Linked DNA regions of Homo sapiens: all the other regions are linked to region 1. Evidence: fine-mapped QTL for protein levels in blood plasma. A gene starts in region 1. Each other region holds a variant in brackets. All regions are shown on one strand. Distances are from middle to middle.

Evidence for each region. PIP is the chance, under the fine-mapping model, that this variant and not a neighbour inherited with it causes the effect. The UK Biobank Pharma Proteomics Project read protein levels with antibody pairs (Olink). The fine-mapping took linkage between variants from a reference panel, not from the people measured, so its PIPs are less certain.
Region 2: its variant is fine-mapped to the plasma level of the FHIT protein (UK Biobank, PIP above 0.99).
Region 3: its variant is fine-mapped to the plasma level of the FHIT protein (UK Biobank, PIP above 0.99).
Region 4: its variant is fine-mapped to the plasma level of the FHIT protein (UK Biobank, PIP above 0.99).

Annotation. Positions count from the first base shown.
Region 1 is chr3:61,247,241-61,255,349 of GRCh38, reverse strand. FHIT (fragile histidine triad diadenosine triphosphatase) reads left to right here and starts at 3,898. Exons shown (of 10, transcript NM_002012.4): 1 at 3,898-4,049. LOC124909387 (a long non-coding RNA gene) reads right to left here and starts at 3,758. Exons shown (of 2, transcript XR_007095939.1): 1 at 3,723-3,758. RefSeq lists enhancers at 3,801-4,095, 4,160-4,219, 4,350-4,479, 4,620-4,749, 5,030-5,309.
Region 2 is chr3:59,979,317-59,987,425 of GRCh38, reverse strand. All of the region lies in intron 7 of FHIT (fragile histidine triad diadenosine triphosphatase), which reads left to right. LOC105377112 (a long non-coding RNA gene) reads right to left here and starts at 2,523. Exons shown (of 3, transcript XR_940885.3): 1 at 2,479-2,523; 2 at 1,788-1,827. The variant C/T (reference allele first, on the strand shown) is at 3,816.
Region 3 is chr3:56,812,200-56,820,308 of GRCh38, reverse strand. It overlaps a transcript of ARHGEF3 not described here. Among named protein-coding and RNA genes, the nearest start is that of ARHGEF3, 14 kb to the right of the region's middle. The variant A/G (reference allele first, on the strand shown) is at 4,588.
Region 4 is chr3:60,830,805-60,838,913 of GRCh38, reverse strand. All of the region lies in intron 3 of FHIT (fragile histidine triad diadenosine triphosphatase), which reads left to right. Among named protein-coding and RNA genes, the nearest start is that of MIR548BB, 220 kb to the right of the region's middle. The variant A/G (reference allele first, on the strand shown) is at 4,518.

The DNA of each region.
Region 1 (8,109 bases):
ATAATGCATTGTTTCTCCTTTTTTCTAATATAATATTTTTGTATTAGATATTATTTTTTCAAATAAATTTGTAATAAATTACAAATAAATAAAGATTCTTGTCTGAAGGTCTGAATTATGACCTGTAACATATGGCTAAGATGAATTATGCAGAGGGTTGAACTCTTTGACCTCTACGGACTTTTTAGTTTTGAAATTCTGTTTCCATGGTAAAGATTTCCTTGTAGGCCATGTGTGCTTGAAGAGGATGCTGTTGGAAGTGTTTGACTAAAGCCAGAGAACATTATGTGACCTCCAGTTTTTCTACACACAAGGATGGCCCCAAGCTTCGTGATAATGGGGGGTTATGGTGTAGTTACCAGTGCCTCTTACCTTTATGATTTAGTTGAATGATACAAATGGTACAAATGTCAGGCTCTTCTAGTACTTACCCTGTTTACTTTTTGTAGCCATAATATAGTCATTTGTTAACCACATATTTATTGAGTGCTGACTAATGAATAACACAAAAATAAAGTTTGTTTTTTTTTTTTTTTTGAGATGGAGTCTCGCTCTGTCACTTGGGCTGGAGTGCAGTGGCACAATCTTGGCTCACTGCAGCCTCTGCCTCCCAGGCTCAAGTGATTCCTTGCCTCAGCCTCCCAAGTAGCTGGGACTACAGGTGTGAGCCACCATGCCTGGCTAATTTTTGTATTTTTGGTAGAGATGGGTTTTCACCATGTTGGCCAGGCTGGTTTCAAACTCCTGACCTCGTGATCTGCCCACCTCGGCCTCCCAAAGTGCTGGGATTACAGGCATGAGCCACCGTGCCTGGCCTGAAAACAAAGTTCTTACCTTCATGGAGTTTACCTTTTGTTTGAAGGAGACAGATGATAAACAAAAGGACAAATAAATGTGGGTATAATTTCAAGTAAAGATATTTGCTATGAAGAAGTACTATAATGGCACAATCCACAGAAGTCTTTCACAAAATTGTCTTCTGGGTCTAAAAGTCACCCAGATCTTGATGCTACCTTCTTAAAATATCCACACCCTTTACTCATGTTTCAAGACCATAAAATGAAAAACACAATGTTTTTAACACGTTTCTTTAAATGTCCTTTTCCCCTTTTCTTAATCTTCTTTCTCCTTGCACTACCATGCCCCAAAGCTCCCAAAGCACCCTCCTTAAATGCCCAAAGAGTTCCTATTCCCCAGTGTAAATGAGGCTTCTGCTATTGTTTGGTTTGTATGTCTTAGTGAGGATTTAGAAAGTACAATCTATCTTAATTGTTGATGAGTGATAGAAGGTGGTAGGCTGCTTGGGCTTTTTGTATTTATCTACTTAGTTTCTGACTTATTCTTATTCTGTTAGTTTCAGTGACATGAGCTTGTGGTAAACCAAAGCCACCTGTAGCAGATATTATTGGTGCCCCGCCAGTATGCTATATTCCCTTACTATTTCAGCGTATACCAATGTGACTCTTAATTCTTCTATCTCTGGCTTTCTGTGGCCACTGAGGCAACTCTGTCTACTCTTGGAGCATTGCAGACAAGCCAGGGTCTTAATAATCCCTGAAAGCTGCCCCCAATCATTGACTGACGGTAGTTGGTGTTTAAACAACCCAGTTATCTTGTCCTCTTGGTGGAATCACTCAGTCTAAGGTACATGTTCCATATTGTTTCCCAGAGATTTCTAGGAGGATTAAGTTCTGGGTGCCTCTAGCGGTAATGTGCTAGATAAGGCATCTTTTTGGTCTTCTCTTCCCTATTTCACTTTCTTAGTCTCTTACTGGTGTTTCCTGCGATAACCTCCTAAATAAAATACTTGCTCTTGAATACCTGTCTCCAGATCTGCTTCTGGGAGAACCCATACTAAGGTGGTTATTAATTCAGTCAAGTTGCAGATCAGACAGTAACCTCCCACTGATTGTCTTGGCACTTGAAGGTCCTGAATCCAATGCAAGTTCTATGTCTTCATGCTCTTTGTGAATGTATCTGTTGCTCAAGGTCGTGGGTGACCTTGAGCCCAGCAGTCAGCATTATCCACAGCTGAAGTAATACCTATGTGCTCATATTAGGCTATCTGACAACAGTGCAATAATCATTAGACACCACTGTTTAGACCCTGAGTATGTTCATGACATTTGCCTTTTGACTGCTAAGTAGAAGATGTAATGATTATAGGCTGATGCTTTCTCAGGAGGAGGAAAGTTATTGAGCTTTACAGTTTCAAATGCTTCTGATTTTCTTCCACGTTTAGTCTGGCTGCTGACACATGTGTTGAAATCTCTCATGTCGATCAGCTTGAGAATAGCTGGGACTGCTGAGCTAAGTCTGTGCTCATAAAAGCAACAAAGAATTGTATTACAGGAAATGACCCCAAATTGACAGAAGATTAGGCTAGGAAGCCTGAACAGGTGTTTTAATCTCTATGCACAAAATCAGTCTGTACATATATTGCTCACATTCCTGCTGTTTTAACTATATTTTTTTTTTCAATTTCACTTTGTTATTCACAATTTGATAATATTTTATGTGGCCATGGTGTCTGTGTGATGAACTATAATCCAATGTGACATTCTCTGAGAGTCAAGCTTCCAAGGACATCAGATTTTCACACCAGGACACTTTGTAGGACACCTTGCTACTCTCCATGGGATTCAAATATTAGAAATAATGAGAGATCTAAGACTTGATGTAATTGCCTGCATGTAATGAATCAGGCCAAATAAAAAAGTGAGAGACAGAGAAAGGAAATGGTGCTAAGGAAAATGGGGACCTATCTTAGTGTTTGTCTGAGAGAAAACTGCTCTTTGTTTTTCCCGATGTAATGGCAAGAGTCTGCAGCCAGGAATCTAGTCCTTGCTTAGGAGCTGCATGACCTTGTGAAAATTACGTAGGTGTTCTGCAATTTGTAATTGCATTTATTGTAAAATTAATTTTACTTTTCATACGTCACTAGACAGAGCATTTTGAGGTTAGGAATTGGGTCTGAATCAATGATTTCTCCAGCACCCACATGGCATTTGGCACAGAATACATCAATAATGATTTTGGATTAAACAGGGGAACAAGCACAAGGAACCATGGTGGTCAGAAACGGGTTGATCTGCACCAGAGAAAGGGAGACTAGGGGAGAAAGGTCACTCTAGATTTCGTTCAATTATTGAAAATACGGTGTATTTACTATGTGCTGGGCACTTTTCTAGGTGCTAGAAAGACTACAGTGACCAAAACAAAAATCCACATCTGCAGGGATCTTGCATTCTAGTGAGAAAGTAAGATGGTAAAAAAGATAAATACGTAAATTTTATACAATGCTTCGTAACGACAAATGCTAAGGAGAAAAACAGCACAGAAAAGACAGAAAGGAAAAGAGAAGGGGCGCATGTGGTGCAATTTTGTTAGGATGCCAGGGAGGGCTGAGCGTAGTCGTAAATGACCACATTATTTGATGGATCAAGCCAGGGACTGCAAGTCTGTGTTTCTGAGAGACACATAAAGAAAAGAAGGCTTAAGGAATCCAGAAAGATCCAGAGTGGGGAAATGAAACGAAAAGAAATCCAGCCAGTGGGAAGTCGTGAAGGGATAGTTAAACGCGTTTTGGGAGGAAAGAAAAAAGCAAAAGTGCGGTACAGCCTTTCGTTACACGTGAAAAGAATCATGTTTCTTTTTCTAGTTAGAAAAAGCCAAAGATTGTGCGATTTATGCCCCAAACCCCCTTGTAAGGGGATTCTCACCTCAACTTGTCTTCTGTGGTCAGTGTTTCCCGCCCCTGAATCAGGGTTACTGTCACTATGGCTTTCAATTGGCCCGGCGTAGGCGCATGCTCTGCGCGTATTGGCCTCCGCTCCTGTCCCCAGACAAGCGGCCATCTTGGGTCCCGCCCCTACCGTGGGGTCTTCTGGGAATTGCAGTCCCCGCTCTGCTCTGTCCGGTCACAGGACTTTTTGCCCTCTGTTCCCGGGTCCCTCAGGCGGCCACCCAGTGGGCACACTCCCAGGCGGCGCTCCGGCCCCGCGCTCCCTCCCTCTGCCTTTCATTCCCAGCTGTCAACATCCTGGAAGGTAGGGGCGGGGAGGCAAGCCCAAGTGGAATACTGTTTCTGGGGCGCGGGTCTGGGTTTCCACGCGCGTCAGGTCATCACCCCGGAGCCCAGTGGGGCCGGCGCCGCTCACGGGGCGGTGGGCTTCTGTCCCGAGTACTCTTCCGCCCCACGAGGGTCTCAGGGTGGGGACTCGGGCCCCCCAATTCCCAAGCACCGACCCTAGCCCTAACCCGTTCCTCCTCCACCGTGTTTATACATTGGGGAAACTGAGGCACGGGGCCACGCCAGCGGGTCCGGGGACGCCACAGCTCTTGGCTCTGGGGGTGTAGTCGGCACCCGCCGTTTTGGGATGGTTCGTCAGTTTCATAGACAAGTAGCGAAAATCCGTCCCAACAGGTCTGTGTTAAACACGCAGCTCTGGATTCCCCTAAGGGGTTGCTGAACACGTGCCCAGGACAGGAGCAAACCGGAGTATAGAGAAGGCAGCATTTTGGGAGATAATTTTACATTACTACTTCAAAAACAGGCAAAGAGGCATCGAATTTATTGTTGTGGGAGAACTCATCGGTACTTGGTCGGACTTTCTTACACTTATTTTATGGTTGTTGTTTTTATTTTTAGCGTCAAAGGGGGGAATTTTAAAGGTATATCCAAGTTGGTGGTGGTGGGGGGTAAGGAGGCAGGTTAGTGGAACTTGAGATGCATCTGCAGATTTCTCTGTAGGCTCACATTCTGCCCTCGCTGTGTTACCTTGGAACAGCCACTCACAGCGCTTATCTGGGAAACAAGGAGCTCAATGCTCCCAGGTCAAGTGGCCAAAGGATGTTGCCTGAAGCCGAAATCTAAATTGAGGTTATGCTTGTGAAAGTTTACCACTTGCAGATTTACTGCTATTATTATTCTGGTCTCTCAGAAATGTGCTGGGACCAATAGAAAATACTCACAGTGGTTGTTTTAGTAAGGTTCTGACCTGGGCCGGGCCCAGACTACCAAGGGTGGTCCCTACTCGCACCTGATGTTAAGCCGGATCTACCTGAACTCTCCCTCCTTGGCTTCAGCCTGCGGCCTGAGGCCTTGGCCGCGGAGGCTTCTGGGAGTTGCAGTCCCGCCTCTTGTTTCTCGTCGGGCAGGTACTCCACCTCGTGGCGTGCCATTTTGCACGGCGAGATGTCTCCTGGGAGACGAAGTCTCGCTTCTAGCCGTTCTGTAGAGCAGCCGCTTGACTCGGAACTACAACTCCCATGTGGACCTGCGTTCATGGCTGCCGGCCTGTGTCCACCTGCTGCAACCTGGACTAGAAATATTTAGTAAAGAAAGAAGTCTAGGGTTTGTGTGTGTGTGTGTGTGTGTGTGTGTGTGTGTGTGTGTGTGTGTGTGTGTGTGTGTTGTTATTGATTGCATATGCTGTTCTAAGTGTTAGATATGGGATTGTTGTATACGGTGTTCCAAGTATTAACGTACATGCTTCCAAAACCACTAACACTTGACCATTTAGAACCTGTTCACATGATCTCTTTTTAATACTACATTTCCCATTTGTATATGAGAAAAAACTTGAGAAGATAGCCCATGATTACACAGCTAGCAATATAATATATATTCAATAAAATATATGTGTTATAATTTAATCCTCTTAAAAGCTATATGAGAGTGAGAACCATTTTTATATCAACTTTACAGATTAGAAAACTAAGGCTAGGAAAGTTAAGTAACTTGTTCAAGTTAAAACACTGGTGAATAAAAGGACTGAGACTGTAAGCCCTTCTGCTTAACAGTCTCTGCTTAGAGAAAGACCTTACCTTACAGAGCTGAGGAGGAGTCCAACCTTTCTGGCTACAGAATTTGGAATCTTTTAATTATACCATGCTGCCTCTGTACTTAGATACTAAACATTTGAGCTGCAAAAACCTTTGAGATCATTTAATTCTAATGCAAAGATCTTGGAACACTTCTTGGCCTATAATAAAGATTCCATATATATATGTATATAGTTTTAGAATACCTTTATTTTAGAGATTAGGAAACTGGCCCAGGTGGTAAAGCAGTTTGCCCAAGGTCACACAGTTGGTTTGTGTCAGAGATTAGACTAGAACCAAGCATCTTATTTTCAAGTCCAGGGTTATTTTCATTCCACCAGCAGTCAGCTAGCAGGAACACCAGATGTGTAGCTCTTTAGATAATGGTTTCTCCTCTAATTTGCTCTTTCAAGGCCACAGACCAGGACCAATTGTTATAAATTATCTTATTTATTATTGGTAAGGTTGTAATACTTCATGAATTCAACAAATGTTTTTTGAGCTTCTTTATATGGTCATCTCTCTTAAGGTGCAAGGACCACATAGATGATAAGGACTTAATGCATTCAGACTGGAAGGACCTTATAAATAATCTAATCTAACTCTTATTTTATAAATGAGGAGAGTGTGTTACGAAGTAGTCTGCAATCTTCATCTCATGCCCTCATGTCAAAAGTATCCCGTTTCTGCAAGAAGGCAGGTTTCTGGAGTCCTCACAGTAGTGTGGATAACCTTTTTAGGCTTATGCTTTTCTATTTGGTATCCTTGTCTTGGCCTTTTTCCTGCAGCCTTTGATAGAATGCTTTAGGAAATGTTTTTGTGTCCCCATCTTTATTTGTGTGTTTATGCAACTTCAACATGCTCTGTTTCTATTTTGGAAGTTAGTCTGGTTTTGGCTCCCATTACTCTTTTCTCTTTTGTTCTTTCAGACACTTGAGAACAAATTCTGACACTATGTTTGCATTCACATGTTAAAATCTGACCCTCTAATATGAACTCTCAGAAATCTATCAAGTTGTGACTTTCATTTTGGAAGACATATTGGCCCTTTCAATTATGTATTCACAGATAATAAGGCAGGTAACTCTGGTCTCTTCTGAAAGATGATTTCCATATAGTTAGGTAATAAAGTAACAGTTTTATGAATTATTGGCTAAACATTCCTGAAACAGTCTATTTGAGAAGTTCTCCTCATCACCCCCATGCCCCCACCCCCACGCTCTCCCAACTGATAGTCTGATCATTCAGCTTCCACCACAGTGCCTGACCACCAGTAGACACTGAAAAAGTACTTGTGGCATTGCATTCATAAGCACCCTGTTCCCACATCTCTTCATTGAATCTGTTTACTCTTTTAATGCAGAAGTGCAGCTTTGAAATATAAGATGTAGGAGGTTACTTTGCTTTCAACATGTACATTGCAGAGAAAAATCTCAGCCTTTGAGATCATTCTCCAAGGGGTTGTCTCTTTGGGAATGTCCATATCTGTGACTTCTCAGATGAGAAAGTGATCTATATAGTAAGACATAGCAGAGAAGCAGTAGAGGGGTTGTCTGGGGACCCATGATTTAATTCCCAGCTGTGCCTTTTAGACAGGTTACTTAGCCCTTGGTTTTCTCTCTTAAAATAGGGATAATAAGCATTTCTACCTCACAGTGATGATGAAGAAGAAAGTGTGTTTAAAGCTTTGAGCATGTTGTCAGGCTCTTAACAGCTTGCAGTCAATAGATAAATATAATAGCTCTTATTTTTGTTATTGTAAGCCTGATATATGAAAATTCACATTTCCTCAAGATTTAAAACTTTAAGCAGGTATTTATATTATAAAAGGATTTGTTTGCCACTTGTTTTCTTAGAGTAGCACACTTGGTCATCACATTTAAAATATGAAGTTCCTCACAACTCTTGATAACCTGTCTTGTCAGCACAGTGACACTCTCTTGTGTGGGCAGAGAGACAGTGAAGCTTTTGGCTCGGTACTGCCTGCTGAGAGGCCCCTGATCTATGGTTCCACCTATATATTAAATCCTTGATTTAAAAGCAGCCTGTTTCTGTCAGTGGGGCCTTCTGTCCATCTCTAGAAAGGATTGGTCCTATCCCAGGAGGCTCAGGGTTAGAGTGAGGCAGTTGTCATCCAGCTGGTGAGTAATCCTGGGGCAATGACCGTGGGGATGTGGCAGTGCTTCTTTCTAAAGCTGACAACTTCAATAGCCATGAGGTTACGATAAGGAGGTGAGTTACTGAAAAGAAGTGATGCAGGGAACAGGGAAGGAGCAACAGGAA
Region 2 (8,109 bases), 1.3 Mb after region 1:
ACCATTCAAGAAAACTCTTTAGAGAAACACATTTGCTTTTGTCCCATGAGACACACACGATGAACTAATAGATCATCCTTGGCTCTAATTTCTAACCGTGTTCACAGCCAAGCTCATTTATACCAGGTGAATGATGATCTGGCTCATCACAAGAAATAGCTAGTATGATGAAAACTTTTACAGAGTTTCAGGAAAAGCAGTCCTAAATAAATAAATAAATATATATAGGATTTCCTATAGAAAAAATATATAAATATATATTTTTATGTCTATATTATTTATATAATTATATATTTTATATCTATATAAAATATATAGATTTTTTATATCTTCATATCTATATATAATATAGATATATATAGATATATTTTATATTTTTATATATTTTATATATTTTATATTTTTATTTTTTTATTTTTTAATATATATAAAATATAAAATATTTTTCTATAGTAAATCCTATACATATATACATATATGTATATAAATCCTATACATACGTACATATATTTTTAATATATAATATAAAATATATGAATATATAAAAATATGAAATATTTTTCTATAGTAAATCCTATACATATATACACATATATACGTATATATTTTAATATATAATACAAAATATATTTATATATATATATTTATATATTTATATAAATATATTTATATATATATAAATATATGTATATATTTATATAAATATATGTATATATTTATATAAATATATATAAAACTAAATATGTAAATATATTATAAATATAAATACATAAAAATATTTTAAAAATTTTCTATAGTAAATCCTAGACATATATGTACACATATATATGTGTGTGTGTGTGTGTGTGTGTATATATGTGTGTGTGTGTGTGTGTGTGTGTGTGTATATATATATATATATATATATATATATATATATATATATATTTTGGACTACTTTCTCATACCCAGAGCCCTTTGGAGTCCAAGGGAGATCCAATCACAGACTTCTGGGTGATATAGCAAAGGGAATAACTGTTTGAGAAGTAAGGGCACAAGAAGGAAAAATCGAGTTGGAGAAAAGACAGTATTTGGAATCTTAATCCTTCTTTGTACATGTGGTGTTTCTTAACTATCCTTCCAAAGGGGGTGCCGTTGAATTTTATTTGGACAGTTTACTCCTACTGAGAGCTTCTCAGTTATCTTAAGGATGTGGGAAATTCTTTTTCTTCTTTCCTTGTTTTTGGAAAGAATGAGTCTGTCTGAGTTTTCCCAAGAAAGTTAGCTGCTACAGTTTCAGGGTGAGCAGCCATAAAGTGTGAACCGCTATTGATAGTGCTTTTTTCTTTTTGCCGTTATAATATGCTTAAAATGGAGTATTCCTTGACATGTGCAGACCGCAAAGGAAGTGATACTTGGTTCAGAGTTTTTTTTCTTCCTCTCATTCCTTCCCCCATCCTTTCTCTGCTCTCCTCTTCCTCTTTTTTTTCTCTCTCTCTGTTTGTGAGAGGGGAGTATAGTACTGAGGGGACCAGGCTCTATAAATGTATCCTAAGTGTCAAGTAGGTTTCATTTCCAGTACCCAGTTCTGGAAGGCCAGTCATGACTGAGTGGACACCTGCGCTGTGACGGATTCTAAGGTTCAGCCTAGGCTCAGTGTGAAAGTGAGAGGTGATCAATTAATAATGTCTCTTAAGGGCATGTGCCACATATATTTGCTCACCCTGCTTTAAGACAGACAGGACTCATCCCAATTCTCACAGATTTTTAATTTTCTGTTTAAGTCTTTAGTGAAATTGAGTACTCACAGCTAAGCGGAGCTGGACTTGTGAAGTTGTACTCATTGCCCTGAGATGGGAAATGCCAAATGGTAAAGATAATCAGCACAGATAAAATTACCTTTTAGCAAATTCTAAATTATGTACATAGATGTTCAAGATTCAATGTAAAATTGCTTTACTTACTTACACTTTATTTTTTGGAATAGGGATAACTGGTCCTTAGACCACGTAGTTTGTTACTTTCTATACAAGTGTAATGGTTTATTGAAAGCAACACCTGATAATACTCTAAGGTTTTACAAATAACCCCCTATGTCTGGAGTTTTGGCAAATACTCTGCCTTACCCTGCCAGTGCAGATAAAATGGAATTCTGTGGCATTTGGAAGGCGGAGCATTCTGTGTTTGTAATGGAGATCATTTGGGCTCTGCAGGGCACATTTGAAGTCACTGATGCCAGTTCAATCCCCAGATGGGCAAATTAACTTTAGTCCTTTCCATGTCCAGAAGCTGCATGCCCCACTCAACTGTCAAGAGTTAGAGCAGGCAACTCTGCAGTGCCTCTGGACACAAGCCACCACAGAGAAGATGTCCCTGAAGAGTTTCCTAAACAAAATGTAACTCACTGTCCTACGATGGGAACTCTCCCACTTTTCCAATACCTATCTGAGATTCCATTTCTGATTCAGGTTCATTACTGGATCATAGACCTCAACACACCTGGCTTAGTAATGGTGAAGCCCAATACTGCTGACCCTGCTGCTACTCTTAAGATTAGGGACCACATTTGAAGTTGCTGTTGTGAAGAGGATTATGACATGTAGCCCCTGGAATCTGCCCCTGCCCCGCCCAGTTGTGCTGGGTATTAAATAAGACAATAATCTTTGTTTTGTCCCTCAGTGTATGCCCATCATCTAGAAGAAAACTCAAACTTAATAGGAGCTTGGTAAGTATTTGAATAAATGAAGGCACATTTTCATAAGTGTGTGTTACTGGTATTAGCCAAGGCTGTGTGCCTTGGTTCCATTCTCTGGGACTCACCCTTCTCATATGTGCTAAGGTTATTCTATTTCACATGCCTTTTACTCTGCACTCTGGGGCTTTCTCTTGCTGGTGTAGAGTGTAGGCCTAAAGTGTCAGGAATTATTGACTTTAGGAACAATGTTTAGCCAATACCAGTGGGAATTTGAGGATAAATTCCCCAGCTTCCTATGTCGTAAGTGCGAAAACTCAGAGGGTAGCATGTTCCACGCTGTCTTCCAGAGCCCCCCCCAGTGGATTTGAGCCCCAATTGCTTGAAGCACTAATATTCTTATAAATGTTTCTTGTAGTAGATTTCTTTTTTCCCCTGTCTTACTTCCACTTCTCCCCTAATGGTGCTTCCTGGGCCCATCTCTCAAATAATCCATTTGTACTCAGATTCCTGTCTCATGATCAGTTCTGGAGAAATTCAGTCTAAGGCATTAATGATAATAAAGCAGTAAAGAGAAAGAATATGAGGTTCAGCATATCTCCTGCTACTACTGGGAAAACAGTCTGGTGCAGCATGCCCAATTCTCAGTGACTGAGTTTCACCTTGGAATATTAGGGATAGTGTGCTACTTAGTAAGAGGCAAGAGTATTATTCACAGGAAAGTTAAGTAACATTGATCTTCTAGGAATTCGAATACAATTTAGACTTGGTTATAATTCGTAAATATATGTTCTTTGCCCTATCACTTCAGTACGTAGAGGCTCTTGTTTTTGGTCTATGCAGCAACTCTTCCTCCCTCATGACTGGATTAATTATAGTTACTCAATCCCCTTTGGCCACAGGGGTAATACAGGAATGGAGACTTGACCAAATCAGGTCCCTGTCTTTGCTAATATAGGGATTTTCTGGTACTAATGGGGCAATCCTCTCATTCTTCTCTGATTACTAGGTTGGGAGCTTCCTGAGGCCACCTTCCACAGCCAGGTTGTCATCTTTATTCTGAGAGAATGAAGCCAACACTGGAGAGGGAAAGGACTATACATTAGTCCGCCTTATCTAAAGGGAATACATTCTAAGACCCCAG[C/T]GGATGCCTAAAACTGCAGATGGTACCAAATTCTGTTTGTACTGTTTTTTCCTATATGTACATAGTTACGATGAAGTTTAATTTATAAATTAGACACAGTAAGAGATCAATTACTACTAATAAAATAGTACAACTATACCAATATATTGTAGTACAAAGTTAATAATTGTGGTCTTTTTCTTGCTCTCAGAATATTGTACTCTAGTCACTTATTTTCAGGCCATAGTTGATTGTAGGCAACTTGAAACCATAGAAAGTAAAACTGCCAATAGGAAGGTAGGACTGTACTGGTTCTGCCTTAACATTCCTGAGGATGTGTTTATGTGAACCAATAAATATACCCCTTCTTTTTGTTCCAAAAGAGTCCTGACCTGCTGGGAGTGGTGGCACATACCTCTAATCCTAGCACTTTGGGAGACTGAGGTGGGCCGACTGCTTGAGCTCAGGAGTTTGAGGCCAGCCTGGGCAACGTAGCCAAACCCCATGTCTACAAAAAATACAAATATTAGCTGGGCATGGTGGCACATGCCTCTAGTCCCAGCTACTTGGAAGACTGAGGTGGGAGGATCGCTTGAGCCAGGGAGGTGGGGGTTGCAGTGAGCTGAGATAGTGGCATTGTGCTCCAGCCTGGGCAACAGAATGAAAAAAAAAATCAAAAAAAGAATCCTGGCTAATGCACGATGCATAGGACTTCATCTTTTCCTTGCTAGAATCTCTAATTTACAAATAGAAAACTTTGGATTTAGTAATTATGCCAGTAATGTGTAGAAGCCACGGAGATGTCTCAGAATCCCAGTTCCAAGACAGTAGGGACTGGGGCTGATGTGCTGGTCTAGGCCTGCTCCCTTTTTTTATCTATTGGTACCTAATAAACATGATGCTGTTTGATGACCTAATTACATTGTGTTAACACATTTGTAGTTAGCCACAAGCACTTAACCTAGCTCAGAACTTCATCCCTTTCTGCAAGTACGGCATATACCGGAAATTGAGCACAGAAATCTTAAAGCAGATTAAAGAGGGCAAAAATTCATTGTGAAATATTCCCAAAGTAAAGTTAGTTATTACACTTGATCTTAGCTGGAAGGCCAAAAAGTGATCACAGTTAGTTATTGATAATATACTTCACTTTAGGTGAATTGGTTTGTGCTAGCTTTGCAGCCTTTGAAAACCCTGTGGGACTGGCATCCCATTTCCTCTGGATACTGCTTATAAAACCACAAATTAATTTTTTTTTTCTTCTGTGATTTCACTTGACACTGGAATCTCAAAAGTTTCTTGGGGGATTTTTTGTTGCCCCAAAAGCTACAATTAAAAGACAGATTTTCATACCTTCTTTTTCCACTTAAACAACCATCTTCAGGGATGTTATTTTGTGTTTATTTAAATATTCAAATAGGATTCATAAGCCCCATCTTCCTCACTCTCATCTTCACAAGCTAAGGCAGTGCTTGAGAAAAGAGACCATACATCACTATTTATTCAGCTAATGTAACGCGAAGAGCTCTGTTTGAATAGTCTATTTATCTCTTCATGTTGTCACTAGAGAGAGGTAAGACTAGCCAGTGCTTAGTGGTCAAAGAATACCTGTTCAGAAAGAAGTGAAGTCAACTGATTTTTAATACCAGATCAATAATTTTTTTTTTCTTTTTGCTGACCCTGGCAGCAAAAAGGAGTGGCAGTAGTGTAAACTGATACCTTGAATCCTGTGGGATATTTTTGTTCTCTATCATAAAATACAATTTTAAATTAACCACATCAGACTTTTTCTTGAATTCCAGAAAATGATTAATATCGATTCCAGAGCTGAAAGGCTTTTGTGTGCATTTCAGGTTAATTTGGCATATTTGCCTCATTTCACATTAAATGTTTTATGTGTGTTTAACTTCTCTATTTGACCATTTAGCATTCGAGAGACTCCATAAGAACTGTTAATTATCAAGGGCATCTCTCTGCGTTAATGTGCGGGCACCGTGGTATGTTCTTTACTCTGAGGCTGAGGAAATGTGGGCTGGATGTCAGGTGCTGTGATGTTATCTATAGGTTCGGTAATGTGGCCAGGCACTGCCACTGTGGGAATCTGTGTGTAATGAACAAATTTTTCACGTCCCCACTGATGGCCTACATTTTTGCAGCAGGAAATCAGAGAGCACAGTTCAAGGGCAGCAATAGAATTTGGATATTGAATTTGTCACAGAAGCAATGGCCCATTTTCAGAAGGCCCTTTGCCTTATGAAACCAGCTAATCAGCTAGAAACATAGGGATTACTCTGAAACTTAGACAAGACAGGACAGCGTTCAGTTCTTCCTCATACAGGGGCATTCCAAGTGTGGAAATTTTAATCCTTTGAGTTAAAATTTAAAAAAAATGTGTCTGGATTCAGGAATAATCTAAAGCATAGTATTCTTCTAAACTCCATTTCCATGAGATGCTCTAAGAAGGTTTTTGTAATAAATCCATTTTACTTTGCATAATGAAATATTTTTCAAACTTATTTCTCCATGGACCCAGTGTTTTTTTTGTTGGTGGTGGGTTTTTTGTGGTTGTTGTTTATAATAGTGAATAACCACTAAAATCTTCAGATGCTTTGTCTATAGATACTTTTGGGTAACATAACTACAAAGGTTGTCAAGAGAAACTAATGTTATTTTCACATTGGCAGAATTTCATGTTCATAGTTAGGATTATAATTAATTTTAGGACACATTGTAAATTATGAAAACAGTAGTTTAGTTCATTTGGGATGCTCTAAGGTAATACCACAAACTGGGTGGCTTATAAACGACCAACATTTTTTTCTCACATTCTTGAGGCTGGGAAGTTCAAGATCAAGACACTGGCAGCTTTGTTGTCTGGTGAATGCCCACTTTCTGGTTCATAGATGCTATCTTCTCCCTGTGTCCTCACATGGTGGAAGGGATGAGGCAGTGGTGGGAAACGGCCCCTTGCCTCCTTGTGGGACAAGCTATCCTTGGCCTGGCCATGGCTTCTCCAGGCTGAACTTGAGTCACACTTGGGATGACTTACACAGCTTTGTGATCCAGGAGCTCCACTAGTTTGAAGCTCTTCTCTGCTATCATCCCATCCATCTTATATAGACAAACCCCATAAAATTCCAAAGTCCGGTTAGAAACTGTAGAATGAGGGCTAATTATAACAACCTATAGCTAAAGCCAGAGGCATTATACCTTCAGGAACTGGGCAAAACTGGGGACTCTTGAAGAACATAGATACATAGTTTTGAAGTATGAAGAATATAGATGCACACTTTTGTGTGTTATTTTTAAGAGTTCAAGGAATCCTTGTTGTCCATTCAGCCACCTTCCTCTGGCCTGAAGTGAGTATCTGCCTTACAGTTGGCAGAGATGAGGAATTAACATTCATGCCAATGCCCAAATTTGTGATGATCATGAAGAGCTGGAAAGGTGAGTTAATTTAGTGAGTTAGCTTCAGTTTCTTTAGATAGTGTCAAACTTAATGTGTAAGAGGGAGAGGGGGAAAAGAGCAATGTAAGCTTAAGTGGTGTTTTAGAATATCTTTTCACTGGGGAAAGAAAATTGACAAAAGATTCAAATTTGTTAAATTAGGAAGAAAAGTCAATATGGTGTATTTGCCATCTGTCAGACACATTAAGTCTTCTCTGTCGAACAGTGTTGTCAGCTGACCTTATTATGCTGGGAAGGACTGGAGAAGAGCTACTGTTTCATCTCCCAGATTTCCTCAGTCTCCCATTAAGAAAGTGCTGAATTTAATTCTCATTTCTGTTGCTTTTTATGTGGCAGGATGGTGACGCTCAGTTTCACAGTTTCTTTCTTTTCGAAAACATGTACTCTTGTCACACGGGCTTACTCATTTATGGGCAGGGTGGGAGTATAGCGACCAAACCCCTTCTTATTTATCCAGTAAAGCACCACAGCCCCACCATATCTTAGTGTAGAGTTTCAATGTGCCCCATTGATAGGAATGTTCCATGACAGCGTACACGTTCTAAATGGGCTTAACCAATAATTTCTTACCCCTGCCTGAGATGTTTCTATTTAAAAAAGATTTTGGGATCCATAGGAAAAAAAATGTCCCCAAGGGATTCTCTAAAATTGTTTATTCTCATAGCTGGTGTTTTGCAAAATGCTTTCCTCTCCCAAGTCTGTCAAGTAATTTTTATAAGGTCTCCACTCTAGACATTCCCAACTAAGTATCTTGTTTTCCCTGAATCTTGGAGATGGAAACACATGCAAAATATGTGATAAGAAAGCAATGAGGGCAATGCTGAGTTATAAAAAATATCTCTGGCTT
Region 3 (8,109 bases), 4.4 Mb after region 1:
TTAATTTTAGCATGAAGTTATTTTGAGGGCACAGCACATCCTTACAGTACCTCCCTGGGTAGAGTCTTATACAGCTGAGCAGATACCAGTTGCTACTGGCCTCCCCTGGCAGTAGTATAACAGCACAAAAATTCAATTGACCATTAAACTGGTAGGTCAATAAAAGTTGAATGTAGGAATAAATGATGACATTAGCTTAGGCTGAGTGCAGTGGCTCACCCCTGTAATCCCAACATTTTGGGAGGTCAAGGGGAGAGGATCACTTGAACCCAGGAGTTTGAGACCAACCTGGGCAACATAGTGAAACCCCATGTCTACAAAAACTAAAAAAATTAGCTGGGTATGGTGGTGCACGCCTGTAGTCCCAGCTACTTGGGAAGCTGAGATGGAAGGAATGCTTGAGCCCAGGAGGTCCAGGCTGTAGTGAGCCACAACTGTGCCACTGACCTCCAGCCTGGATGACAAAATGAGAAAAAAAAAAAAAGTTGCACCAGATGCAGTGGCTCATGCCTATAATCCCAGCACTCTGGGAGGCTAAGGCAGGAGGATTGTTTGAGCCCAGGAGTTCAAGACCAGCCTAGGCAACGTAGTAAGACCCCCATTTCTACAAAAAATAAATAAGTAAATAAAAATTAGCCAGGCATGGTGGTGCACCTGTAGTCCCAGCTACTCAGGAGGCTGAGATGGGAGGATCACTTGAGCCCAGGAGGTCAAGGCTGCAGTGAGCCACGATTGCACCACTGCACTCCAGCTTGGGAGACAGAGCTAGACTCTGTCTTTAAAAAAAAAAAAAAAAACTGCCACCTGGTAGAACATGGTTAATTAAGTGGTAGTAATAAGAATTGTTAGAACTCAAAAGAATAAACTAGCTCCACAGGGCTGGGTTGACCTGGGAAAGCTTCTCAGAAGAAAAACTTGGTCTGAGACTTGAATAATGAATGGTATTTTAAAACATGGAGAAGGATGAGGGAGGGACTATTCTGGACCTGAGTTCAAAGATACACAAAGCTTTTTAAATGTCAACCAATTGGTCCTCTTATGTTGACAGCCCTTGATACATACCTTCTGTGCCTTTTCCTTTCTTTTGTTCTTTAATTCATTCAACAAATATTTATTGAGTGCCTATTATGAGTCAACCTTTTTGTGGCCCAGGGAATATGTTCATGAGGCAGCCTAGTTTTATGGTAAAAACATCAGCTGGGAATCAGAAGACTTTAGTCTTCTCTTAAGTCCTGTTTTTAGAATACAAGTATAAAAAAATTCTTTAAGTTTATTGTTGCTGTCAGTATCTCTAGATGGAGACTTTGGCAGCTCAGACAGAGGATGTAGCATACTGTCACCTTTCCTGGGAAGAAAGGACTTCTGCTGTTTGAATGAAATAGTTTTTTTCGTTACCTTCTTTCCTCTCTCTTTATTCTTTCTTGTGGGAGCACTTTATCCTTTGAGCTCCAAAAACAAAGCTGGAAACCCATGAAACAATATTTGCCACGACCCTGGGCAAAGATACAAATGAAAACAAGCAGAATTCTTTATCAGCCAGACAGTTCACCTTTGTTCATATTCCAAGCGCGTAGGATGGCAGCAGGGGGTGCAGGGGGAGGTTTACCTGTGGTTATCCTGCTGAAAGAGGTATGCTCATTCTCACGAAAAAGAATTGATCTTGAGACTGAAAATGGCTTATGGCAGGGTGGGTGGCTGAGAACAAAAGCAATTGTTAGCATTTTTGAGATATTCATACATCTTGAGCAGCAGCTCAACTTCTATCAGTTTGATCCAGGTCTTTTTTCCTTTGAATTCAGTTCTATCAGCATCTATAGAGTGCTTGCTGTATGCAATACTAGTCATTTCAAGAGGAGGAATTTAGCTTCCTTTCCCATTATCTCCACCAGCCCCCTCACTCCAGAAGCACCTCAAATAAGCTTACCAGCTAAGCATGTACACTGTAGTCGCTGTGCAAACATAGCTTTGAGATGGCCACCCTGCCACCTCCCACATGACTCCCTGAAGTCCTTTTCTTCTTTGTCCTCTCCTGTCACATAAAATTCAGAATTTTCAGGAGAATTTCAGAATTTTCAGTAGAGTTTCAGAATTTTCAAGATAGAAGGGAACTGAGGGTCACCCAGTTCTGTTTGGTAACAAATGTGTTCCACTTCTTCCCCTAGCCAGAGTCCCAGGACAGAGGGTTAGCTCATTATGTCTTTGGCTCCTCTTTTATCCCTAACCTCTCGGGTATAAAATGTAAGTGATTAATGTTCCACAAGACTTGGACTGAAAAACTTTAATCCAGTACATTCTGTTTGATCAAAACAGGGTCCAGGAAAGTTAAATGACTTGTCCATAGCTGCCACAGTCTGTGGGTAAACAGGGACCAAAACCCAAGGCCACTTGATCCCCCATGCGTGGCCTTCCTATAAAGCCACTTGCCCATGGTGTGGACATGATTGCCCTGTGGGTACGGGGCATGCTGGGGCCAATGACACGCTATCTTTGGGGAAGGGTGTAGCTTTGTGGTTAAGACCATCAACGTTCTGGCAGACTAAGTAAGTTCTGGCATGGCTATTTAGTAGCTGTGTGATCTTGAGCAAGTTACTTATCTTCTCTGAGCCTCCATGCCCTCATTTATACAACAGGGCAGTACCCTCTTCAGCAGGTTGTGAGGATTCAGTAAGGTAATATATGTCACATGCTTGTCACAGGTCTGGCATAAGGCAAATGGCACCTAACATTATTTTCTAGCTTTTCAGCACTCAGGTGTGAACTTCCCAAGTCATAATGGTTCTTTCTGTTCCAGCTGAAGTTAACTCAAACCTGTCTTTATTACTCCATTTGTTGAAAGAGAATCTGATATGGAACTTTTTGCTTGGATGATGTGCCACACATGTAGTCTACTGTTAGAAATTGTTTAAAAATCTGAGTTTCAGAGCTGTCTTTCCAACTGGTTGGTTGGTTCCTGGGTTTTGAAGAGATTCGTTCCTCCTCCAGACTTATCTCCTCGCTCTGTTTGGGACCATAATAAACCTAGCTACTGTTTATGAAATTATTACTATGTGGTAGCCCCTTAACCAGGTTTCTCTCTAATCTTCACCTCCACCCTTTGAAGTAGGTGCTATTTGGTCCTGATTGCAGATGAGGAAACTGAAGTTCTGAGAGACTGAGTAACTTGCTTGATGGTTGATATTTTGGTGGTTCTCCCTCGTGGAAGGTGGAAGAGCACACTGTGCTCTGTAGTTTTCTGGATGTGAGATTATGTCTAGGGTGACTCTAGCACTTGGGGTTGACACCTGACAAGGACTTGAGTGAGCATCCAACCCCCTGATTGATCAGCAGGGGAAGCTGGTGAGCAAAAACGTCACAGGACTGGACCCAAGTCAGCACTGCTTCTCATTCAGTGTTCTTTCAGTCATATCATATAGGCTCAAATCCTTGACCCTTGCATCATAGGCTCTGGCCTCAGGACTCCCTGGTTTGTGACTGGCCTGTGAATTAACGTTCCGCTTCAGAATTGGAACTTGAGGTTCTAGAAGCAAGGTGCTTGCATTTGAACTCCAGCTCTGCTGCTTACTAGCTGTGTGACTTTGGGCAAGTTGCTTGAACTCTCTGTGCCTCAGTTTCTCCTACTATAGAAGTACTCATTTCATAGGATTGTTGTAAGGATTACTTGAGATACTTCATTAAAGTCAAAGCACAGTGCCTGGCAGAGAGCAAACACCTCTTCGGCTCTCAGCATCATTTACTGAGCTCTCATCACTTGCCAGGCATCTTTTGGCAATGGGGATGTAGCCTTGTACAAGCGATTCATGATTCTTTTGGAGCGTACAATCTAGTAGGGGAAACAGATGCTAGAGAATAATGAAGATTATGATTTATTAAGTAATTCTAGTGCTATTTGTTATTTATGGGGCACTATTTAGAAGTTGCTGCAAGGTATCTTTGTTTTTAGTTCTAATTCTTATAAATGGACAACATTAATGTAAGTAAGTATTTTGGGTAAGAAGTTTGGCCAGGGTTGCACAGAACCCTCAGCTTTGAGAAGCCTGTGGTTTAGCATCTCATGCCAGCAACCATCTAGATGTGTATTTTTGTTTTGTTTTTTAGAGACAGAGTCTTGCTCTGTCACTCAGGCTGGAGTGTAGTGGTACAATCATAGCTCACTGTAACCTCCAACTCCTGGGCTCAAGCCATCCTCTTGCCTCAGCTTCTAAAGTAGTTAGGACTATAGGAATGCACCATCATGCCCTCCTAAATTTTTACATTTTGTGTACAGACAGGATCTCACTATGTTGGTCAGCCTGGTCTTGAGTTTCTGGCCTCAAGTGATCCTCTTGCCTCAGCTTCCCAAAGTACTGGGATTATAGACATCAGCCACCAAGCCCAGTCAGTCATCTGTGTTATATCCAGAACAGAATTAGGTATGGCCCTACCACTTAGATGCAAGCAGCCCACCCTTGAAGGGCAGAAGGGAAGCTGTGACTGGGCAGAATCCACAAGGCAGCAAGACTTGGTCCACTGAAGGAACAGATAGCTCTCATAGTCATAACAGGCCTGTAGGAAGAAGACAGTGTAGGAACCAAATGCTGTTGTAAAGAT[A/G]ACACAGGCACTATGTAACCGAGTACCTATTTTTAAGTGACAGTGGTATATTTTAGGCCAGTTCTATCCCATTTGTAGTCTGTCTCCATTTTCCCTCAGTAATTCTTTTCTCATAGTTGATCTTTCCTCTGTTTCAACCTCTTGTTTGCTTTGCCATTTGATATTAAAAGAATCTATATGCATATGCATTTCTTGACAAATGAGTACATTGAGCTTAATTTTCTGATGAGCCTTCATAAAATATTACCATGCTGAACCAACCCAAAATGTGGGCTGCCTATACCAAACATGCTAATTTTAGACAGGGTGCTTTCATCAGTACATAAGATATGAATTTTTATTTGAAAGCTTTCCTGAAATTAAATAGCATAAAATCAAGATAATACTCCATATACACTTCAGTCTTTGCTGTTTAATAGAATCACAGAAGCATACACATTTATGTTTAAATCACCTTGTTATATGGTTCAAGAATCTATGTCTCAGAGAGATCACTTGACTTGCCCAAGACCACAGACTTAATGGTAGGGCCAGATTGTATACCATGTCTTCTTTTTTTTTTTTTTTTAATTTTTTTAGAGGTGGGGTCTCGCTCTGTTGCCCAAGCTGGAATGCAGTGGCACGATCATAGCTCACTGCAGCCTCAAACTCTTAGGCTCAAGCAATCACCCTGCCTCAGCCTCCTGAGTAGCTGTCACCATAGGCATATGCCACTGTGCCTGGCTAATTGTTATAATAATAATTGTTATTATTATTGTAGAGATGAGGTCTTACTTTGTGGCCCAGGCTAGTCTCAGACTCCTGGGCTCTAGTGATCCTCCCACCTTGGCCTCCCAAAGTGTTGGGATTATAGGTGTAAGCCACTGCACCTGGCCCATGTCTTCTAATTTAGGTCAGTTCACTCTTCACTCTGCTGCTTCTTTTATATATGTGCAACAGTCATATCCTTTTTTGAAATTATAAGATTAAATCAAAGAATTAATGTCTTTGGAAGCAAGGAGTGTTGGAAAAGTTCTCCAAATTCCACCTTTTTTCCTTAATTCATTTAAAAAAAAAGGGAGAAGGATGATTTATTTACCGGAAGGGTTAATAATAGCATGACGTGCTAACTGTATGCTTAGAAATCTGACATACATATTATCTTATTGGATTATTCATGTGTTTTTAACTCATTAAAACCTTGAAACTCTCATATCCCCATTTTATAGATGCTTAAACTGATGTTTGTCATCATTAAGTAAACTGTCCAAAGTCATATAGTTGGCAAGTGAAAACTTGGTATTTGAACCCAGGCTTCTCATTCTAAAGCAGAGGTGTCCAATCTTTTGGCTTCCGTGGGCCACAGTGGAAGAAGAATTGTCTTGGGCCACACATAAAATACACTAACACTAACAATAGCTGATGAGCTTAAAAAAAATCGCAAAAAAAAGTCTCATAACGTTTTACGAAAGTTTACAAATTTATGTTGGGCCACATTCAAAGCCATCCTGGGATGCATGCAGCCTGTGGGCCATGGGTTGGAAAAGCTTGTTCTAGAGCTTGTATTCTATGTTCTTCCAGAAAGAAGGACAGAGTGTTGAGTATTCCACAAAGAAAATTTTGCTGTAAAGGCAGAGTGGGAGGGAAATATCTTATTCTTTTTCAGTTTACTAGCTCTTCACTTTATAATTTAACCTTCCATATTAAAAGCTTCTCTAGGAAGTGAGAATTAATTTGGGGGAAGGAAGCCTCAATTATTCCTGCTTCCAGCTGGTACAGATGCTTGGCCACTTCAGGACAGGTAGGAGGGAGAATGTTGGCATCTGTCTACTGAGCTCAGAAACTGGAGAAGCATCTAAATTCAGGAATGATGCCAGGTGGGGTGGGGGTGTGGGAGGGAGGAAAAGGATGTGGTGTTTGGGGCCCATAACTCAGGAAACGTGATGGCACCTAATTTCAGAGTGGCATGAGGCAAGCATTTAGGAAAAGAATAGTGAACTATTGTTACAGGTTTTTTTTAAATGGGTGGGTTGTTTTTATAAAGTTTTATGAACAGGAAACTGAAGCAAAATGCTGATCCTTTTAGTTTTTGAGCTCTGCCAGCATCATTTTTATATTTATTTTTGAATTTTGATGACAGGCACTTCCTTTAACACTTCTGGGAGTAAAGTGTAACAAGATACCCCAAACTGCATTTCATAACAGCAGAATCCAAATGAAGAGTTGTAGTTTCAGATCTTTTCGATAACACGGTGAGACAGAACTGGATCCCTCCCCAGCCAGGGGAGAAAGAGAACTCTTTCAGTAACTGAGGCAGTCTGCAGAATTTTTTCCCTTTCAAAACATTCTAGAAAATTTGCCTAACATGTGGAAAACCTCTAACATGCATTAAAATGGGATAGACTGTGGCAAAGAAAATACAGATCAAATTCTCCTCCTCCCATGAATCATAAAAACCCAGCCTTCCCAGCTATTGTTTCTCCTGGAAGATGACTTCATCTTAAAGAAAGTGGTTCTATCTGTTGTGTGTTTTGGATGCACTAAACCAATGTTTCAGGCATCTGGCTGCCAACTTTGGAGATGTTAAAAGCCTGTTTTGTTCCTGCAGGGCACTCTTTCATTGCCTACCTTATAAAAGTTATGTCTTATTGCATTTTCCTGGCACCAGAGCAATCCTTGTACCTACCCATTGCATTTGGTTTTTCTGAGCCTGCAGGCAGCACTGGGTTATTAAAGTTCAAGGAGGAATCCACATGATGTTGGCTTTACAATTTTAATTCTCTCTTACCTTCTTTCCTCCCTACCTCCCACTCAATGACAGATGAGCTTTGTTCACCATGTATTGTCTCTAAACCAGAATGAGCTCTCAAAATTATCTCTTGTAAGGCTCTAGGAGGGGAGAACATGACTCCCCTTTGGTGGAGCAGCTAGCAGAGAAGTTTCCTTCTTCCTTTGGCTTCTTTGAATAAAAAGTTCTTGAGTCTATAATTTATCATCAGCCTTGAACTTCAGATAAGCACCATGTTTAATCTTGCAGAAACATCAGGCAAAATCTGCCCCCTCCCTTAAAAGTCAGCCCCTTGGGGCCCACCTCAAGAAAACAGAGTTTTGATACAAATGGCATTAGGTGTGAGCATGGCAAGTTAAGAGGAAAAAAACATTTTTGTAGAGTTTAACCTGGAATCAAAAACCTAGAGAAGGGAATGAAAGAAATAACCTTTAAAGGGAAGGAAAAGGGCAGATGAGCATGTTGCACAGTGTCTTTGAAAATAAGCTATTTGATGTCCCTTTGTCACTAGTTTCAGCCTTCCTGGCAAGTCCACCTTGTTCAGGAATTAGTGTGTAAACAGCTGGAAGGAACTGAAAGCTCTATCATATCTGAGAGGCCCCCACAGTCTAACACTGTAGGAGCCGTTTCTCAAAGTGGTTTGGACTCTTCAAGAAGCTAAACATTAAAATTAGGGGCCTATTTGAATTACCTTTCAAAATTTCAAACAGCCCACTATAGTATTCTGCATATTATTTTTTGGTCCCATCTCAGAA
Region 4 (8,109 bases), 420 kb after region 1:
ACCTGGTTCACACATCTCTGAGAAGTTTTCACTGATTCTCTCAAGCAGTGCTGATTCTCTCTGTGTGTCAGCATCGTGACAAGTACATACCTGCATTTTTGCACTTATCACACATTATTGTAATTATTTTTCACATGTTTATTTTTTCTGCCAGAATCAGTTTCTTGTAGCCTGGTGACATTTAAATTCGATAGGATCCGGTTTATTGTATATTTTTTTAGCTCTTCCTACATGTATTATTTTTGAGTTTCTGCTGAGACTCAGGAACTTAAAGCTTTCAAAGTCCTGAATGCAGATAACAATCAACAGTCAAGCCAGTATCCTATTGCCTGTGAAAATATCCTCAGGAATAAAGGGGAAGTAAAAATATTATCAGATGAAGGAAAACTAAGAGAATTTGTGTTTTTTGTTTGTTTGTTTGTTTGTTTTTGTTTTTGTTTTTGAGACGGAGTCTTGCTCTGTCGCCCAGGCTGGAGTGCGGTGGCGCGATCTCGACTCACTGCAAGCTCTGCCTCCCGGGTTCAAGCGATTCTCCTGCCTCAGCCTCCTGAGTCGCTGGGACTACAGGCGCCCACCACCACGCCCGGCTAATTTTTTGTATTTTAGTAGAGACGGGTTTCACCGTGTTGCCCAGGTTCGTCGCGAACTCCTGAGCTCAGGCAATCCGCCTGCCTCGGCTTCCCAAAGTGCTGGGATTACAGGCGTGAGCCACCACGCCCAGCCGGAAAACTAAAAGAATTTGCATAATTGCATCACTGCACTCTCCAGCCTGGATGACACGGTGAGACTCTGCCTCGAAAGAAAAGAAAAGAGTTATCTAATTGGAAAGAAGACAATTAAAAATGGATCTCTTCAACATCAGAAAGGAAGAAAAAAACATAGCAAAAACATTTGTACTCTTGAGAGCTCTAATTGTGTTTGAAGTTTGAAGCAAAAATTGCAATATTCTGATGTGGATGTAAATGCATGTAAAGGAAGTATTTAAAATAATTATATTATAAATGGGGAAGATAAAGGGATGCAAAGTGCGGAGATAGGGTTTCTATATGTTACTCAAACTGGTAAAATGATGACACCAGTAAACTGTTTAGTTATAAATATATAAAGTAATACCTAGAGAAACCTTTAAAAAATTATATACAGAAATGCACTGAAAGACACTTTAGATAAATCAAAACAGAATTCCAAAAAGTGTTCAAATAGCTTATAAGAAGTCTGGGCAAAGAAAACAGAAAACCACAAAGAGAACAAACAGAAAATAAACAAAAAATAAAATGGCAGTGTAAATTCTAAAATATCAATAATTACATTAAAGTTAAATGGTCTAAATATACCACTTATAATACAGGGAAGAGATTAGCAGAATTGTTTAAAAAATATGACCCAACTATATTCTGTCTATGAGAAGCTCACTTTCAATATAACAATAGACGAAAGTAAAATAATGGGAAAAGATGTATCATGCAAACTTTAATCAAAGGAAAACAAGAGTAGCTGGTTCTTTGAAAAGGTTAATAAAACTGACAGTCTAGCAAGACTGACAAAGAAAAGAGAAAAGACACAAATTACCAATATTGTAACTAGGCAACTTAACTTCCAAATGCATTTTAAAACATTTTTTTCTCTTCTCTTGGTTTTCAAGATACAACCTTGAAAAACTGCAGAAGCCTTTTCCTCAGCCTAGAAATAGGCTCCACGTCCCTCCCTTTTTCACCATATATACTCCCTTCACATTTGTCTAAGTATATACTAGTATCTAATTACTGTGCCTTCTTAGAAGTTCCAGGGGCTAATCTTGAGACAGGCGGAATAAGCTTGGAGACCCAGCTGCAAAATTCCAGAGATTACTTCAAAGTGGCTAGTTAAAAACCTGGCCATGGCTGCTCAGGAACTTAAAGCATTCAAAGTCCTGAATGAAATAATAATCAACAATCAAAGCAGTGTCCTACAGCCCGTGAAAATATCCTCAGGAATAAAGGGGAAGTAAAGATATTCCCAGATGTCTTGACTCACCATCCAGGTAGACTGAGACCCAAGATAGCTACCAGAACAAGACACACAGATATTATACTTAGTACAATTCTTGCATGCCTTCCTTATCAAGTTTTCCCTTTTTAAACCCCTGCCTTCCCCCAAAATCAAAGTGATTGCTTTGGGCGGGAATCTGACCATTTCCCCTTTACTGGTTTTAGTAAAATGACTTTCTTTCTACTAGACCTCACTCTTGTTAACTGGACTCTGTAAACAGTGGGCATCTGGACCTGCATTTGGTTACAATATCAGGAATGAAAGAGGAGATATCACTATTGACCCTGTAGACATCAAAAGGATAATAAAGAAATGCCATGAACAACTCTACACACATAAATTTGATAACTTAGATGAAATGGGCCACTTCCTCAAAAACACAAATTCCTACCATTCACCTATCATGAAATAGATAATATTTAAAAGCCCATAACTATTAAAAATTGAATTAATCATTTAAAAACTCCCTGAAAATAAATATTTAGGCCCAGATGGCCTCACTGGAGAATTTTACCAAACATTTAAAGAATAATTAATAGGAGTTTTATACAGTCTCTTCCAGAAAATAGGAGAGAACACTTCGCAATTCATTTTAGGAAGCTGGTATTACTCAGATATGAAAAACAGAAAAAACAGTGCAAAAAAGAGAAATATATACCAATAACTGTCATAAATAGAGACACAACAATCCTGAACAAAATATTAACAAACAGGATTCAGGCTAAAAGAATAATATACCACGACGAAATGGAGTCTAGTCCAGCAGTGCAAGGCTGGTTCCACCACTCCTATTCAACATAGTGCAGGAAGTTCTAATCAATGCAATAAGGCAAGAAAGGGAAATGAAAGGCATACAGATGGAAAGAAAGAAAACTGTTAATATTTGCTGATGTCATGATTTTCTACACAGAAAACACTAAGTGATCTACAAAGACGAAAAAACACAAAACCAACTCTTAAAACTAGTAAGTGGCTGGGTGTAGTGACTGATGACTGTCATCCCAACACGATGGGAGGCCGAGGCAGGTGGATTGCTGGAGCCTAGTTCAAGACCAGCCTGGGAAATATGGAGAGACCTCATCTCTCCTCAACAACAACAAATGAACCAGGCCTGGTGGTGTATGCCTGTCATCCCAGCTACTTAGGAGGCTGAGGCAGGAGGATGGCTGGAGCTCAGGAGGTTGAGGCTATAGAAGGTTGTGTTTGTGCCAATACCTGTGTGCCACTGCACTCCAACCTGGGTGGCAGAGTGAGACCCTATCTCAAGCAAACAAATGAAAAACTAATAATTGAGTTCATTAAGGTGGCAGGATATGAGATAGACATTTAAATTATCAATTGTATTTCTTTGTACTAGCAATGAATCTGTGGACACAAATTTTAAAAATATAGTACAATTTGCCTTAGCTCAAAAATATGAAATACTTATGTGAATCCAATAAAACATTTATAAAACTTGTTTGTTGAAAACTATATAATGTTGATGAAATAAATTTTAAAAATGTAAATAAATGGAGAAAAATGTTGTGTTCATGATTTGAAAGTCACAGCGTAGTAAAGATACCGATACTTCCCAAATTGATATACAGGTTTAAAGCAGTTCCTATCAAAAATCTCAGTATGATTTTTTCATATATAGATGACATTATTCTAAAATTTATACAGAAACAAAGGAACTAGAGTAGCTAAAACAATTTTGAAAAAGAAATAATAAAGTGGGAGCAATCAGTCTACCCAGTTTCAAGAAGTATTGCATAGTTACTATGTGGCTATCCATGGAGTGACAGAAACATAGATCAACGGAACAGAATAAAGAACCCTTCTTTTAGAAGGAGAAGGCATTAGAGAAAAATCTTTGGAATCTCTGGCTAGGGAAAGAGTTCTTAGATTTCACATAAACACAATCCATAACAGGAAACAAATGATATATTGGTGATATATTGGACTATATCAGAATTAAAACTTTTGCTTTTGCACCGTGAAAGAGTTTTTTTTTTTTTTTTTCTTTTCTTTTCTTTTTTGAGACAGTGTCTCACTCAGTTCCCCAAGCTGGAGGGCAGTGGCACGATCTCGGCTCACTGCAACTTCTGCCTCCCAGGTTCAAGCAATTCTCCTGCCTGAGGCTCTGGAATAGCTGGGACTACAGGTGCATGCCACTGTGGCTGGCTAAGTTTTGTATTTTTTTTTTCTTTTTAGTTGAGACTGGCTTTTGCCGTGTTGGCCAGGTCTCAAACTCCTGACCTCAAAAGATCCACCCTCCTCGGCCTCCCAAATGCTGGTATTACAGGTGTGAGCCACCACGCCCGGCCTAAGACCCTTTTAAGAGAATGAAAAGAATAACTACAGGCTGGAAGAAAATATTTGCAAACTACATATCTGACAAAGGACTAGTATTTAGAATATATAAAGAATTTTCAAACTCAACAGTAAAAAAATCCAAGCAACTCAATTAGAAAATACATGGCCAGACATTTTACTGAAGAGGTTAT[A/G]CAGATGGCAAATAAGCACATGAAAAGATGTTCAACATTATTAACCATCAGGGAAATGCAAATCAAAACCACAATGAGTTATCACTATGAACATATTGAAATAACTAAAATAAAAGATAATGATAACAACAAATTCTGGTGAGGATGCAGAGAAATTGTGTTACTGGTGAGAATGTAAAATGTTATAGCCACTCTAGAAAATGGTTTGGCAGTTTCTTACAAAATTAAACATGCACTTATCATACTCCTGGGCATTTATCCCAAGTAAACAAAAGCTTATGTTCACACCAAAGCCCATACATGAATTTTCATAGAGCTTTATCTGTAATAGCCCCAAACTGGACACAACTCAGATGTCCTTTATTGGGTGAATGGTTAAGCAAACTGTGGTCCATCCATACCATCGAATACTACTCAGCAATGAATTATTAATACATGAAACTACTTGACTGAATCTTCAGGGAATAGATTAAAGGGGAAAAAAACACAAAACCAAAAGATTACACACTGTACGACTCCACTTGTATAACATTTTTCAAATGAAAAAATTATATAAATGGAGTACAGATTTGTGGTTAAAAGTTAAGAAGGGGTGGAGTGGGAGGGAAGTGGGTGTGGCTATTAAAGAGCAACAAGAGGATCCCTGGGATGGACACATTCTGTGTTTTGAATGTGTCATTGTCAATATCTTGGTTGTGTTACTGTGTAATAGCTTTCCAAGATGTTACCATTGAAGGGAATTGGATAAAGGGCATATGGACCTTCTCTGTATTTTTTCTTACAACCTTCATGTGAGTCTACAATTATTTCAAATAAAAAATGTTAGTTAAAAAAGGGGAGGGGAATATGAACAAAAATCATAGAGGAGAAGGTCACAGAATACAATTGTAGAAGCTGCCTTAAAAGGCCAGGGACTGATTTAAAAGGGGAGAGAAACGGTAAAATCTAAACTGAGATTCTAGAACGTGTCAGGAATTCATGGCACTGTAAATGTATGAAAGTGGGAATGAAGGAATATTAAAAGAACATTGAAAGAATGACAAATAACTGCTAATCAGTCCCCAGAGTTCTTGCCCAATCCGCATAGCCTGGGAACTGCCTCTCCCAACTGCCTCCCTCCCTACTTCCCCAGGAGGAAGACTGGAGGGGTTGGACCAACTACAGGGCTCGTGATTGGAGTCACCATGCATAGCTGAGGATGGGTATAATGATGAAAATCGGGGCTTAAGTGAAAGACAATATGATGGGGCTTCTGCTCTTTCCCATACTTAAATCTCAGAACAATGGCACCCAGGCTTATACCCCTAAGGCAGGAGATTGAAAGATATCTTTCTGGGGAATTTGACCAGCCCAAGGAAAGAGACCTATAAATATCAACAACCAGGGCTTTTCTAAGCCAATCTTTCTAGAACTGTGTTGTCTAATATGGTAGCCACTAGCAACATATATGGCTACTGAGCATTCAGACTAATCAGGTTAGTCTGATTTGAGATGGGCCTTAAATGTAAAGTACACTCTGAATTTTGAATGCTTAGCGTAAAATCTCTTATTAACTTTTATTAACATGTTGAAATAATATTTTTGATATATTGGGTTAAGTAAAAGCTATTATTAAAATAGTTTTTAAAATGAATAAGAGACTGAATTTCTTCCAGATTGAAAACAGGAAAAACGACTTTTATGGTGCCTCTGTGCTTTTTTTTTTTTTTATGAATTGATTTAAAGCAGCACATTATCAACACAAAGGGAGTGATTAGCCAGGAAGGAGAAAAAATAGTTGTGACCACGTATGTCTGACATACCTGATGTATCTCTTTCTTGCTGGTTTCTATTGAAATTGGTTTTTTTAAAGGCACAATCTGCGGAATGACAGTAGGCAGGTTATCTGGGCATCCCTATGTATTTCATCCTCCCAAGTTTATGTTAAATTTGTTACTTTGGGTGAGAGTGACACAGACATTGGGCATGGCAAGGAGGTTCTTTATGTATCAGTAGGAGTGCCTCCAATATGTTTTGGGTTGTCCAGTGAGTCATTCTGTCTGGATCAGAATCCAAGATCTGCAACTTAGTAACTGTGATTTAGGTCAAGTAATTTAACTCTCTTTGCCTCTGTTTCCTCATTGGTAAAACAGGAATCAAAACAATAGAACTCTTTTTTTTTCTTTTTATCTAATTGTATTCTTATACAATTAGATAAAAAGTACAAAATAATAGTACTTTTAAGGTCATTGTGAAGATTGCATACTTTAATGTGGGGAAAAAAATGTTTAGATGGTGCCCAGCACATAATGAGCATTATATAAATGCTGCCTATTATTATTATTATTACTTGGGGCTAAGGGCTCTAGTATTATCTCTGATCCTTAGGCCAGCTTGTAAGGTAAGTAGTGTTGTTATCTAAGATTCTGAGGCTTAGAGAAGAAGCTGCTCAACTGGGCTACAAAGTCACTTCAAAAACCTGAGATTTTTTTCCATTATACAATCATGTCTCATAAATCTTAGCGCCCTATTGCTGAAAGAAGCCTTTTAGATCATCCTAGGAGGTTTCTGAACTATTCTGCAGAGTGAGTGGTTAAGGGTTGGGCTCTGGGGTCCAAAAAAATCGTGTTTGAATCCTAACCCATCACTCAGAGCAGCTGGGTGGTCTTGGACAAACTCTTCAACTGCTTTTCTCTTATGTGGTGTCTCCCTCATAGGTTGTTAGGATGATTAAATTAGATAATATATGAAAAGTTATTGGCATACTAAGTGTTCCATAATTATTAATTTTTATGATTATGGTTTTATTGTAAATATGAACTAAGTCTGAAGCTGGTGGCAGAGGTACAACCCGAACTCTGGCAGGTCTTTTTATTCAGTGCTCTCTCTTCTCCATTTTGCTATCTAATTGGTTAGTTTTTATTCATCCTTTTAGAGTCTACATTTCTAAAGTCAGGGCTGTTAGTGAAGATTTTAGAAGAACATTTTCCAAGAGTTTTTTTGAACTGCCAAGTCCAGAGATTTAGGATGTACCTTGGTGCTGAAGTAATTGGCTCTCTTAGTCTTGCATTATAAGAAGTTCTCTTTCAGAGTATAAGGTTGAGAACCATGAGAAGAACTCTCACATTTTAGTAATTGCTTTATGGAATAACTTACCTCCTAAAAACATATGTTTTTCAGCTTCAACTCGTTCCTTTCCTTTCTGTGCCATTTTGAGAATCTCCTCATTATATATAATCACAATCTTATGTTCTGAGTTTCTCCTTTTAACTATTTCCTCAAGTGCCATCACTTAATAATATTTTCTTTTCTGTTTATCAACTAGTTGGGGAAGTGGTATGGTTGTTAGTACTGATGAGTTTCTTAGGAAAATACAGAAATAATTTAATCTTAAAGATTTTCTATCTGTCAGAGAATCTGTCATAAAACATGCCTGAAGCAAGCTGCACAGTATTTACTGCCCTTATATCACACCTAGACACAGTTCACGATTGGAGATTAATTCAGAAATTCTCATTAATATGTTAAGCTAAGGACAAGGATGAGATGTTTTAATACTTCCATAAATGCAACATTTGTTTTGTGTGTGTGTGTGTGAATTGGATTGCTTTGC